Linked DNA regions of Homo sapiens: region 2 is linked to region 1. Evidence: fine-mapped expression QTL. A gene starts in region 1. The other region holds a variant in brackets. All regions are shown on one strand. Distances are from middle to middle.

Evidence for each region. PIP is the estimated chance that this variant, and not a neighbour inherited with it, causes the effect.
Region 2: its variant is the best candidate, but not a certain one, in a credible set for the expression of ACBD4 in anterior cingulate cortex (GTEx, PIP 0.72).

Annotation. Positions count from the first base shown.
Region 1 is chr17:45,133,303-45,138,665 of GRCh38, forward strand. It overlaps ACBD4 (acyl-CoA binding domain containing 4), which reads left to right and starts at 2,385. Exons shown (of 10, transcript NM_001135705.3): 1 at 2,385-2,651; 2 at 2,806-2,930; 3 at 3,198-3,318; 4 at 3,390-3,474; 5 at 3,717-3,837; 6 at 4,066-4,152; 7 at 4,458-4,528; 8 at 4,611-4,686. The coding sequence starts at 2,843. RefSeq lists an enhancer at 1-6.
Region 2 is chr17:45,108,909-45,114,271 of GRCh38, forward strand. PLCD3 (phospholipase C delta 3) reads right to left here. Exons shown (of 15, transcript NM_133373.5): 11 at 5,342-5,363; 12 at 4,531-4,697; 13 at 4,214-4,349; 14 at 3,955-4,104; 15 at 51-3,796. The coding sequence ends at 3,708. NMT1 (N-myristoyltransferase 1) reads left to right here. Exons shown (of 12, transcript NM_021079.5): 12 at 1-108. Among named protein-coding and RNA genes, the nearest start is that of MIR6784, 2.8 kb to the right of the region's middle. RefSeq lists enhancers at 3,022-3,887, 3,888-4,752. The variant C/G (reference allele first, on the strand shown) is at 2,615.

The sequences.
Region 1 (5,363 bases):
GCAGCGTTTCTGCGGCCGGTGGCCTGGGTCCGGCAGAGACATGGGCGCACACCGCCACTTTGCGGCGGCCAGCGGCGTGGCATCCTACAGAGAGGCTAGTGCTCAGGGCCTGATTTGCCACCTACTTGCCCTGCTCTACCCCATCCTCAGATCTCCCAGGCCCAGAGATTCTGCACACTGGCTTGGGTCCCTACGCCACTCTGGGGTCCTGAATTTTCTTTTTTTTTTTTTTTTTTTTTTTTTTTTTGAGACGGAGTCTCGCTCCGTCGCCCAGGCTGGAGTGCAGTGGCGGGATCTCGGCTCACTGCAAGCTCCGCCTCCCGGGTTCACGCCATTCTCCTGCCTCAGCCTCCCAAGTAGCTGGGACTACAGGCGCCCGCCACTACGCCCGGCTAATTTTTTGTATTTTTAGTAGAGACGGGGTTTCACCGTTTTAGCCGGGATGGTCTCGATCTCCTGACCTCGTGATCCGCCCGCCTCGGCCTCCCAAAGTGCTGGGATTACAGGCGTGAGCCACCGCGCCCGGCCCTGAATTTTCTTCTTGATTATCGTATTCGCCTTTGTGCTTTTGATCCTGCCGTTCCTTCCTCCAGAAACAACCTTCCTTATTCTCCTGGTTTACCCTTTTGTTATTCTTGTTGTTGGATAGGCTAAGTCTACATTTCTTTTAATTGTTATGGACACTTAATAGTTGCAGAGAATTATGGAGAGGCATGTAATGTTTTGATACAGGTATAAAATGTGTAATGATCAAATCAAGGTAATTGAAGTAACCATCACCTCAAGCATTTATCATTCCTTTGTATTAGGAACATTCCAATTCCGCTTTTAGTTATTTGTATTTGTATTTTATTTGTTTATTAGAGACAAGGTCTCACTACTTGGTTGCCCAGGGTGGAGTGCAGTGGCATGATCATAGCTCACTGCAGCCTCAAAGCAATTCTCTTGCCTTGGCCTCCCAAAGTGTTGGGACTACAGGCCTGAGCCACCACTTCCCGCCCAGTTATTTTGAAATATACAATAAATTGGCCGGATGCGGTGGCTCACGCCTGTAATCCCAGCACTTTGGGAGGCAGAGGTGGGATGATCACTTGAGGCCAGGTATTGAATGAAGACCAGCCTGGGCAACATAATGAGACTTCTGCCTCTACAAAAATTGTTTTTAAAATAATTAATTTAAAAAGATACAATAGGCCGGGCGCGGTGGCTCACGCCTGTAATCCCAACACTTTGGGAGGCCGAGGTCGGCGGATCACGAGGTCAGGAGATCGAGACCATCCTGGCTAATATGGTGAAACCCCGTCTCTACTAAAAAATACAAAAAATTAGCTGGGCGTGGTGGCGAGCGCCTGTAATCCCAGTTGCTCGGGAGGCTGAGGCAGGAGAATGGCGTGAACCCGGGAGGCGGAGATTGCAGTGAGCCGAGATCACGCCACTGCACTCCAGCCCGGGAGAGAGTGAGACTCCGTCTCAAAAAAATAAATAAATAAAATAAAATAAACAAAATAAAAAGATACAATAAATTATTGGTAACTATAATCGTTGTATTGTGCTACCGAACACTGGATCTCATTCATTCTAACTGTATTTTTGTACCCATTTCCCCCCCTCCCCAGTACCCTTCCCAGCCTCTGGTAACCATCATTCTGCGATGTCCATTTTGCTTACTCTTTTTTTTTTTTTGAGATGGAGTCTCACTCTCGCCCAGGCTGGAGTGCAGTGGGGCAATCTTGGCTCACTGCAATCTCCACCTCCCGGGTTCAAGCGATTCTCCTGCCTCAGCCTCCCGTGTAGCTGGGATTACAGGCGCGCGCCACCACGCCCGGCTAATTTGTGTATTTTTAGTAGAGATGGGGTTTCACTATGTTGGCCCGGCTGGTCTCGAACTCCTGACCTCAGGTGATCCGCCCGCCTTGGCCTCCCAAAGTTCTGGGATTACAGGCATGAGCCACCGTGCCCGACCATCTTCCAAAACTGAGCTGTGATGTCCTTCCTCTAGAACACCTGACCACAGGACATGACTTTTTTTAATCCCCAGTGCCTAAGTGTCTAGAGAGCTGAGTGGGTTGCCTCGGATCGGCCAGGCCTGGATATCAGCGAACAGATGCGGATTTCCACCAGGGGGCGCTAGGACGCCACGACCTTTCACTATGTGCACCAGGGGGCGCTGCCGCCCGCCTTGGCCATCCCGGGCTGGGAAGTCCGACCCTTCGATTAAGCCCCGCCTGATTGGGAAAGGCTCTGAGAAACTATTTGCATGATCTTGAAAGAGCTGTGCTGAATGGTTGAGGTAGGTAAGCCGAATGTGAAACAGGCTCTCTCATTGGCCTAAATTCCCCCCCTCGATCTGCGTCGCCATCCCGGCCCTGCTGGACCCCGGGGTCAGTAGGAAGCCGCGGGGTGGTGGCGAGAGAGGACCCAGGTGTCCTGGCAGTGGGCGCCGCGGGGCACACGCTGGGCCAAGGTGCAGGCGGCCAGGGTGGGAGACTGTTCGCCCCGCCCTGAGTACTCCTATCTTGTTTCTCCACCTGTTCGGGAGTTGGAGATGTGCACCTAAAGGAGGCGCATCTGGGGACGGACACATCTGGCACTGAGGCCCTCGCCACCTGCCTCGCCACCTGGCGACCCTGACCCCACCACACTGCCTTGAGGTAGGAAAAGGAGGCTCCTCAACCACAACTTCTGACCTCCCAGGGTGTCTGAGGCCTCTAAAGAGCTTAGTTTGCCCCTCTGGGAAGTGAATCCTTGGCTTATGGTGCCGGGGGGACCCTGGAGGCCCCCTCACACGAAGGCTGCTTCTTGCAGAGTCGCTCAAAAGTAGGGCCCCAGGGCTCGCAGCAGCATGGGCACCGAGAAAGAAAGCCCAGAGCCCGACTGCCAGAAACAGTTCCAGGCTGCAGTGAGCGTCATCCAGAACCTGCCCAAGAACGGTGAGGCTGCGGGGACTCGCATTTGGACTCGCATTCAGGACGCCTGGGGTCTGACTCTGAAGAAAGAATGGTCCTGATCACTGCAGTTTTTGCAGACAAGCCCCTGCCTGGGCTGTCCTGGGGGTTCCCTCCGCTTCCTATCCTAGTCCAGATGCCCTGGGTGGGACCCATCACCACCTCTGCCCTTTCCAAGCAGGGTTCTCCCGCCCCTCCGCCCCTTGGAGCTGGGAGTGATGCTTTGCCCTGGCTTCCCAACTCTCTGCCCAGGTTCTTACCGCCCCTCCTATGAAGAGATGCTGCGATTCTACAGTTACTACAAGCAGGCCACCATGGGGCCCTGCCTGGTCCCCCGGCCCGGGTTCTGGGACCCCATTGGACGATATAAGTGGTGAGCTCCCTGCTGGCTGGGCAGACAAGCCTCAGCTGTCAAGCAGCCCTCTCACAGCCCTCTGCCCCCAGGGACGCCTGGAACAGTCTGGGCAAGATGAGCAGGGAGGAGGCCATGTCTGCCTACATCACTGAAATGAAACTGGTGGCACAGAAGGTAAGGGCTGCAGGTTCTCTGTCCCCAGGCTCCTGGCCAGGTGGCCTCACCCTTCCAGTTCTGACCCCCACTACGTTTCCTACACATGGACCCCCTCATGGGAATCACCACCTTCATGTTACCCCCAACCCTGCCTATCTTTGGCCCCTGACTGGGCACAGGGTGGAGGTGTGTGACAGGGCAGGAGCAGGGAGGAAGGGACAGGAGGCCACTCCGTCCCCAACAGACCCCCTCCCCTACAGGTGATCGACACAGTGCCCCTGGGTGAGGTGGCAGAGGACATGTTTGGTTACTTCGAGCCCCTGTACCAGGTGATCCCTGACATGCCGAGGCCCCCAGAGACCTTCCTGAGAAGGGTCACAGGTCAGACTCCCAGGCTGGGAGCTCCAAAAGTGCTGAGTGAACCGTCTTAGGTCTAGGCTGAGGTGGGCTGGGGGCAGAGGGCTCCAGGCGACATCCCTGTTAGGGCCCCCAAGCCCCCGAGAGGTGGATCCCAGGCAGCATCCACGGCTCATCACGAGTAGGGGCTTGATCACACTGGGAGGTGCCAGCCTCTCCCCAGGCCCACCTCTGGGTGCTGTGTCTTGGCAGGTTGGAAAGAGCAGGTTGTGAATGGAGATGTTGGGGCTGTTTCAGAGCCTCCCTGCCTCCCCAAGGAACCGGCACCCCCAAGCCCAGGTTAGTGCTTGAGCAGGAGGGGTGGACCAAACTCAGGCTGGGGGAGGGCTGGAGGGGAGAAGGCTGGATGCCACGCTGTGCCCTCCACAGACACTGAGACTTCCTGTGCTCCCAAAGGTGGGGACCGGGGTCTAGGATTCCTGTTCCAGGGCCTTGCTTCTGGCGCCCATCTGTGCCTCAGGTGTTGATATCTCTAGTGCCTCGTATCTCTAGTGTCTCCTAAACAGGTGCTTCTGCCCAGTGCACACTCCTGCTCTCCCTCCACAGCTTCCCTCTGGGCAGTAACTCTACCAACCCCTCCACAGAGTCCCATTCACCCAGGGACCTGGACTCCGAGGTTTTCTGTGATTCCCTGGAGCAGCTGGAGCCTGAGCTGGTGAGCCCAGTCCCCATTCCCCCCTTTTCCCACCCCACTGTGCTCCCACTCCCACCCTCAGCTCTCTGACTCATCTCAGCAGGTTTGGACAGAGCAGCGGGCAGCATCTGGAGGAAAGCGTGATCCCAGGAACAGCCCCGTGCCCCCCACAAAGAAAGGTGAGCTCCTACCCAACCTCTCACCCACTTCTGCCCTTTCCCGTGGTCCTGGCACCCCAGGCTTTCTCTTGGCTGCCTTCCTAGGGCAGAGTTGAAAGTCCATTGCTGGGCACTGAGCGAGAAGCCTCTGTCCAGGAAGGGCTGCCAACCAGCCAGATACCTGCCTGGATGGGCAAAGTCCCCGCCCTCCCTCCTCTCCCCAAAGGGCACCCAGGAGTCTGCACCCTCTGCAGGTCCTGAGTAAGGCCAGCGGGATGGGAGTCCTAGCCCAGTTCTCCCACCTACAGCTGCACAGCCTCAGGAAGTCATCCATATTCTCTGGACTCCCCCGTTTGGAAATCTCAGAAGACAATGAGTTCTGCCCTCTTCCCTTCTAGAACTCCTGTTGTGTGTCAGGTCCTGTATGGACATTTTGAAAAGTTTCTCCTTTTTTCCTCTGAGCAAGCAGCCCTGTGAGAGAAATGACATCTTCTCCTAATTTTTAGATGACAAAATGATGCCCAGAGAAGTTAATGACTTTGGCCGGGCACGATGGCTCACGCCTGTAATCCCAGCACTTTGGGAGGCCAAGGCAGGCAGATCACCTGAGGTCAGGAGTTTGAGACCAGCCTGGCCAACATGGTGAAACCCTGTCTGTATTAAAAATACAAATATTAGCCGGGTGTGGTGGGCACCTA
Region 2 (5,363 bases), 24 kb before region 1:
GCTGTGGGGGGGCATCCATTTCCAGGGTCGGGGAGGAAATACCAAATGCATTGTTGTTCTGCTCAATACATCTCACTTGTTTCTAATAAAGAAAGCAGCTGAACAAAACCTTCTGTCCTGGTATTCCTGGTCAGCAGGTGGCAGTGGAAGAAATGGAGTGCTGGAGCCTAGGCTGGAGCCAGGACGACAGGGCTTGGACACAAAGTCCCTCAAGCCCACAGCACCAGGCCAGCTTCCAAAGGCCTTCCTTTAAGGCTGCCCTTCTTCCAGGGCAAACTTGGTGTTGTCAGACCCTTCCCACCCGCCAGAGACGAGCTGCTATTGACCCAGGTTCACTCCAAGTTAGAGCAGCAACTGGGCTCTCAGCCAGCACCTGAGCACCTCAGCACAGGAGCCGGCCCAGGCTTCCCTAGCTGGGCACAGAGCAGCCCCCTTGGTCCAGGTCAGCAGTGGCTCCTCTGGTGGAGGTGCAGGCCCCGTGCCTTCCCACTGTGCCCAGGTGCCACATCTCTCCTCCTGCACCACTGGCCGGGTGGTTCTTTGAGTCACTAGGGGTGCATTTTAACATGGCAAGTTGCTGGGCCCCAGTAGCTGTGTTTAAGACTTCCCATTCCCCCTCTTCTCATCCTCTGGAACTTACCCATTCCCTGACCCCCTGATCCTTTCAGGTCCATGACTGGTGCCTCCAAGCCCCTTTCCAGGGAAACTGAGAGGACACAGGACCTGCCTGACCCCTCTAAAGCCCCCCAACCCTCCTGTCCCAAACCAAGTCACTCAGGCTCCTATGGCCCATGCCTTTTTTCCTGCCCTTAGCTTTGGGCTGAGAGAACATAGCCCTATGTGTTGTTTCTACCCATGGGCCTCTGGGATAAAAAGCTGTGATTTCAGGCTGGGCATGGTGGCTCACGCCTGTAATCCCAGCACTTTGGGAGGGCGAGGCGGGTGGATCACGAGGTCAGGAGATCGAGACCATCCTGGCTAACACTATGAAACCCTGTCTCTACTAAAAACACAAAAAAATTAGCCGGGCATGGTGGTGGGCGCCTGTAGTCCCAGCTACTTGGGAAGCTGAGGCAGGAGAATGGTGTGAACCCGGGAGGCGGAGCTTGCAGTGAGCCAAGGTCGTGCCACTGCACTCTAGCCTAGGCGACAGAGCGAGACTCCATCTCAAAAAAACAAACAAAAAAAAAACCCTGTGATTTCTCCCTTGCTTCTGCTTCCCAGTTCACTTCCTTAAAGACTCTTGCCCTTTTGGCTGGGTGCAGTGGCTCACGCCTGTAATCCCAGCACTTTGGGAGGTCAAGGCGGGTGGATCACCTGAGGTCAGGAGTTCGAGACCAGCCTGGCCAACATGGTGAAACCCCGTCTCTACTAAAAATACAAAAATTAGCTGGGTATGGTGGCGGGCGCCTGTAATCCCAGCTACTCCGGAGGCTGAGGCAAGAGAATCGCTTGAACCCGGGAGGCAGAGGTTGCAGTGAGCCGAGATCACGCCATCGCACTCCATCCTGGGGGACGAGCAAGACTTTGTCTCAAAAGAAAAAAAAAAAAGACTCTTGCCCTTTCAAGGCAGCCTTCTCAGTATTGGGCCCTCATCCTAGCCTTCACCCCTTCCTCTTGGTACCAGATACGAAACCAGAGAAGCCAAGCAGGATGGGCACTCAGCCCTGGGTCTGGTGCTCACCTGACCCAGACCCCCCAGCCAGCCCCTGGCCAGACCTGGCTCTGCAGGGGCTGGGCAATGCTAATGGCTCTTCATTTGCTAAAACTGGACTTAGCCTCACTGTGCCTCCCATCCTGAGGCTGCAGTTTGGCAGCCTGACCCTCTGACAGCCCTGAGTGCCAGATGCCCGGGCTGCCTGGCCCGGCCCGCCTGGCTCGGCCCATTCCTTCTGGGCCCTTTTGATTCTGATTATCCTCTTTCAGACACACAAATTAACCAGAGCCAAACGCCACTCCCAGCATGAAGGAGCGGGGGACACTGCCACTTTCTGCATTAGTTCTTGGAGTTGCTAGAAGGTGGAGTCTGCCCCAGCCCTGTGTTTTGGTTTCTGTGGGGCTTGGGGCCAGTTCAAGGCCTATCCCAGCCCAGTTCCAGGCCACCCTCTGGGGACTAATGTCAAGTTCTGCCCTTGTCCAGTGCCGGCACTGTTGGCTGGCAGAACCTAAAACACCAGGCCTCCACATTTCACCCTGCTGGCAGGGGCGGGTGCAGGATTTTCTCCAGATTCTGTCGCCTAGTGTCCAGTGCGCTCTCCTGGCATTTCTATAGAGGCGGCCCAAGCAGCGTTTCCAGCCTTTGTGTAAAAGGCTGGCTGGCTGGAGGAAGGGAAGCCCGTGTCCTTGGGATTTGCCCTACTGAGCAGACAGGGGCCTTGAGCCCAGCCAAGCCTGGAGAGTGGCAGTCTGAGGGTCCCTCAGACTCCTGTCTCCTCCTCATTCAAGGCCCCTCTGTGTATGTGTGAGTGTGTGTGTGTGTGTGTGTGTGTGTGTGTTGTGGGGAGGCGCTGACCTGCTGAATTGGCATCCTCAGACAGTCTTGTGATACTCGCAGCAGCTTTAAGCCAGGAGCAGGGATCGGGCTATTTAGAGCTGTGGCATCTCCTGCTGCCAC[C/G]CCCTGGCTGTCTTAGCCAAGTCCATGCCCTGTTGAGGGGAGAGGCCCAAGAAACTCATCCAGCCCTGTCCCTCCTCATGGGCCTGTGGGGGTGGCAGCATAGAGGTGCTCAGGGAGTGGCGGTGGTGAAATCAACGTGCTTCTTTATTTTTTAAACTAGATAGGCTCATTCTACTGTCTTCTCCAGGGCTCTTCTATGAAACAGTTACAAACCTACGGCCAGGCCAGGCAGTGGCTCACACCTGTAATCCCAGCACTTTGGAATGCTGGGGCAGGAGGATCACTTGAGGTCAGGAGCTCGAGACCAGCCTGGGCAACATAGGGAGACCCCCGCCCCCCCCGCCATCTCTACATAAAATTTAAACATTAGCCAGGTTTGGTGGCCTGTGCCTGTAGTCCCAGCTACTCAGGAGGCTGAGATGGGAGGATCGCTTGAGCCTGGGAGTTCAAAGCTGCAGTGAGCCATGATTGCAACATTGCACTCCAGCCTGGGCGACGGAGCGAGACCCTGTCTCAAAAAATAAAAACCAAAACCTACTGCCAGTTTCCCCAGGGCTTCATGCCTCAGCGCTCCCTTCTTGCTTTGAGAAGGGAAGGGGAGCTCAGGTTCCGGAGCTGGAGGGAGGAGTCCAGGAAGGCCTGGGGTAAAGGAGGGCTTAGGGGCTAAGCTCGGGGTCGGGGCCAAGTGGAGTGACTGCGCTCCTCTGGGGGAAGGAGGCTGGGATGGCCCACGGGAGGACAGAGGGGAACTGAGGGCCCACAAGTGTCCTGCTCCCCAAGTCTCCTGGCAGCAACAGGCTTGCTCCTCATAAGTCACAATGAGGGGTGGGCTGAGGACAAGAGGAGCTGGGGCCATCTCAGGGCCCCAGGGTTGGAGCTCACTGAAGTCACATGAACACCTTTCTGTTCTTCAGGAGGGGCCCAGGCAGCCCTCAGCACCCAGGTGAGACCAGCGCCTGGTGAATGGGCTGAGTGGGCCAAGTGGGTGGGCTGGGGGGCTGGTACTCCCACCACCTGACTCCAGAGGAGGAGAGGGCTCTGCAGGGGATGTGGACTGGCACTCGCAGAACCCCAAGGCGAGTGAGGTGGGCCCTCAGGAGCGCTGGATGCGGATTTGGATGAAGAGCGTGGCTGGTGACAGTGAGGCCCCGTCCTTGGAAAGCAGGTGTATGTGGCGGTACCCTGTAGGGAGGACAGCCAGGCCTCAGGTCCTCTGTGCACCCTGGGGGTCTGGCCCAGCCCGGGCCTGCTTCAGGGCAGGAAATTCGAGGCACAAAGGTGAACAGGGTCTGCAGGACCTGGACCCACATCCCTCTCCATCCCCACCAGCCTCCACCAACCTTGCTTTAGGCTGCTAAGAGGCAGTGTAAACTGGCCCACAAAGTCATTGGGGGAGGTGGCGTCATAATCTTCCACCACAAACCGGACCAGTGCCAGCTCCGGAGCCCGCAGCTGGAACTGCAGGGTCTGCCCCCAGCGGGGGTTGAAGCCTAGGGCACAGGGATGGCAGTCAGAGCCCAGGGGCCCCAGGACCCACCCTGCACCACCCTTCGCTCTCTGCAGTCTCCCCCAACCCCACTTCCGCCAGTGGCTGCCCACCATTGTTGAGCACGTAGTCAGTCTCCTGCCGGGCACAGTCTGCGGGCACCCCATGGATCTCAATGCGCACCAGGGGGTCCACAATGGAGTGTGGCTTCTCGGCATTCAGCTTGGGCAGCTGCTGTGCAGTCAGCACCTGTGGGTGAGGGAGGGAGTGGCTGGGGCCCACGCCCACCTTGGCCATCCCCTCATGGGCCTCAAGCTCACACCACCCTCACTTCCAAATGTCCCCAGCCTCCCTTGCCTTCCTCCACCTCACAAAGAGCCTTTCTAGAACCAGTCTGACCCCACACTGGGGCCCGTTCCAGCCTGCTGACCTGGATGCTGAGAGTGGTTCTGGGAGGTCCTGGGTACTCGGGGTCAAAGGTCGAGTCAGGTTGCCGCAGGCAGGCAGGTTTTAGGACGTAGCCACACTGCCCATTGACTAGGAAGCGCCCGGCATTGAGGTCCATCTCGTAGCCTGGCGTCTGGAAGTTCAAGGCCACTGTGGACACAGCAGGGTCAGAGCAGGGGCTCTTAGCGGCCCTGTTCTCACTACTCAGTTTCAGGGGACTGCATTCCTCTCTACAAAGGGCCTGGGGTCCCACTGTCTGCTTAGTGCTGCTCTGCTCCCACCATGACTTTAGGGGAGGGGGTCATGGACCCAGCCCCCACTGTCACCTGTACTTCTGCCCTGGGATCCCTCAAGACTGGGGTGGGAGGTACTAAAAAAGCCCCCACCCTCAGGGCCAGGCTTGGGTCAGAGCCAGGGGTCTGAGGAAGCCTGGGGTTTCCATCCTTACCCCAAGGAGACGATACAGCCCTCCTTTGGTGGGGCTCAGCGTCCCCCAGAGCCCACCCTTGTCAGTGTTGACTTAGTGGGACTGCCAGGTGTGTGGGGGTTGTGTGTGTCCGGGGGACATGGGAGTGGAGATTTTAATTTCTACCATGATAAAAATGCGAGACCTGTACACTGTCAAGAACAAACGAGCCTGATTTGATTTTCCCACCTACATTGCTGGCAACTTTAAAAATAATCAACAAAATGCGTGTTTCCACCGTCTGGAAGGCTGTGTGGGCCCCTCACTGCTGAGGCCTCCCCCACACTGTGGCACCCCGCCTGCTCTCATTCCTGTGGCCCCCACTTACCCAGCTGACAGCCCGAGTTCCA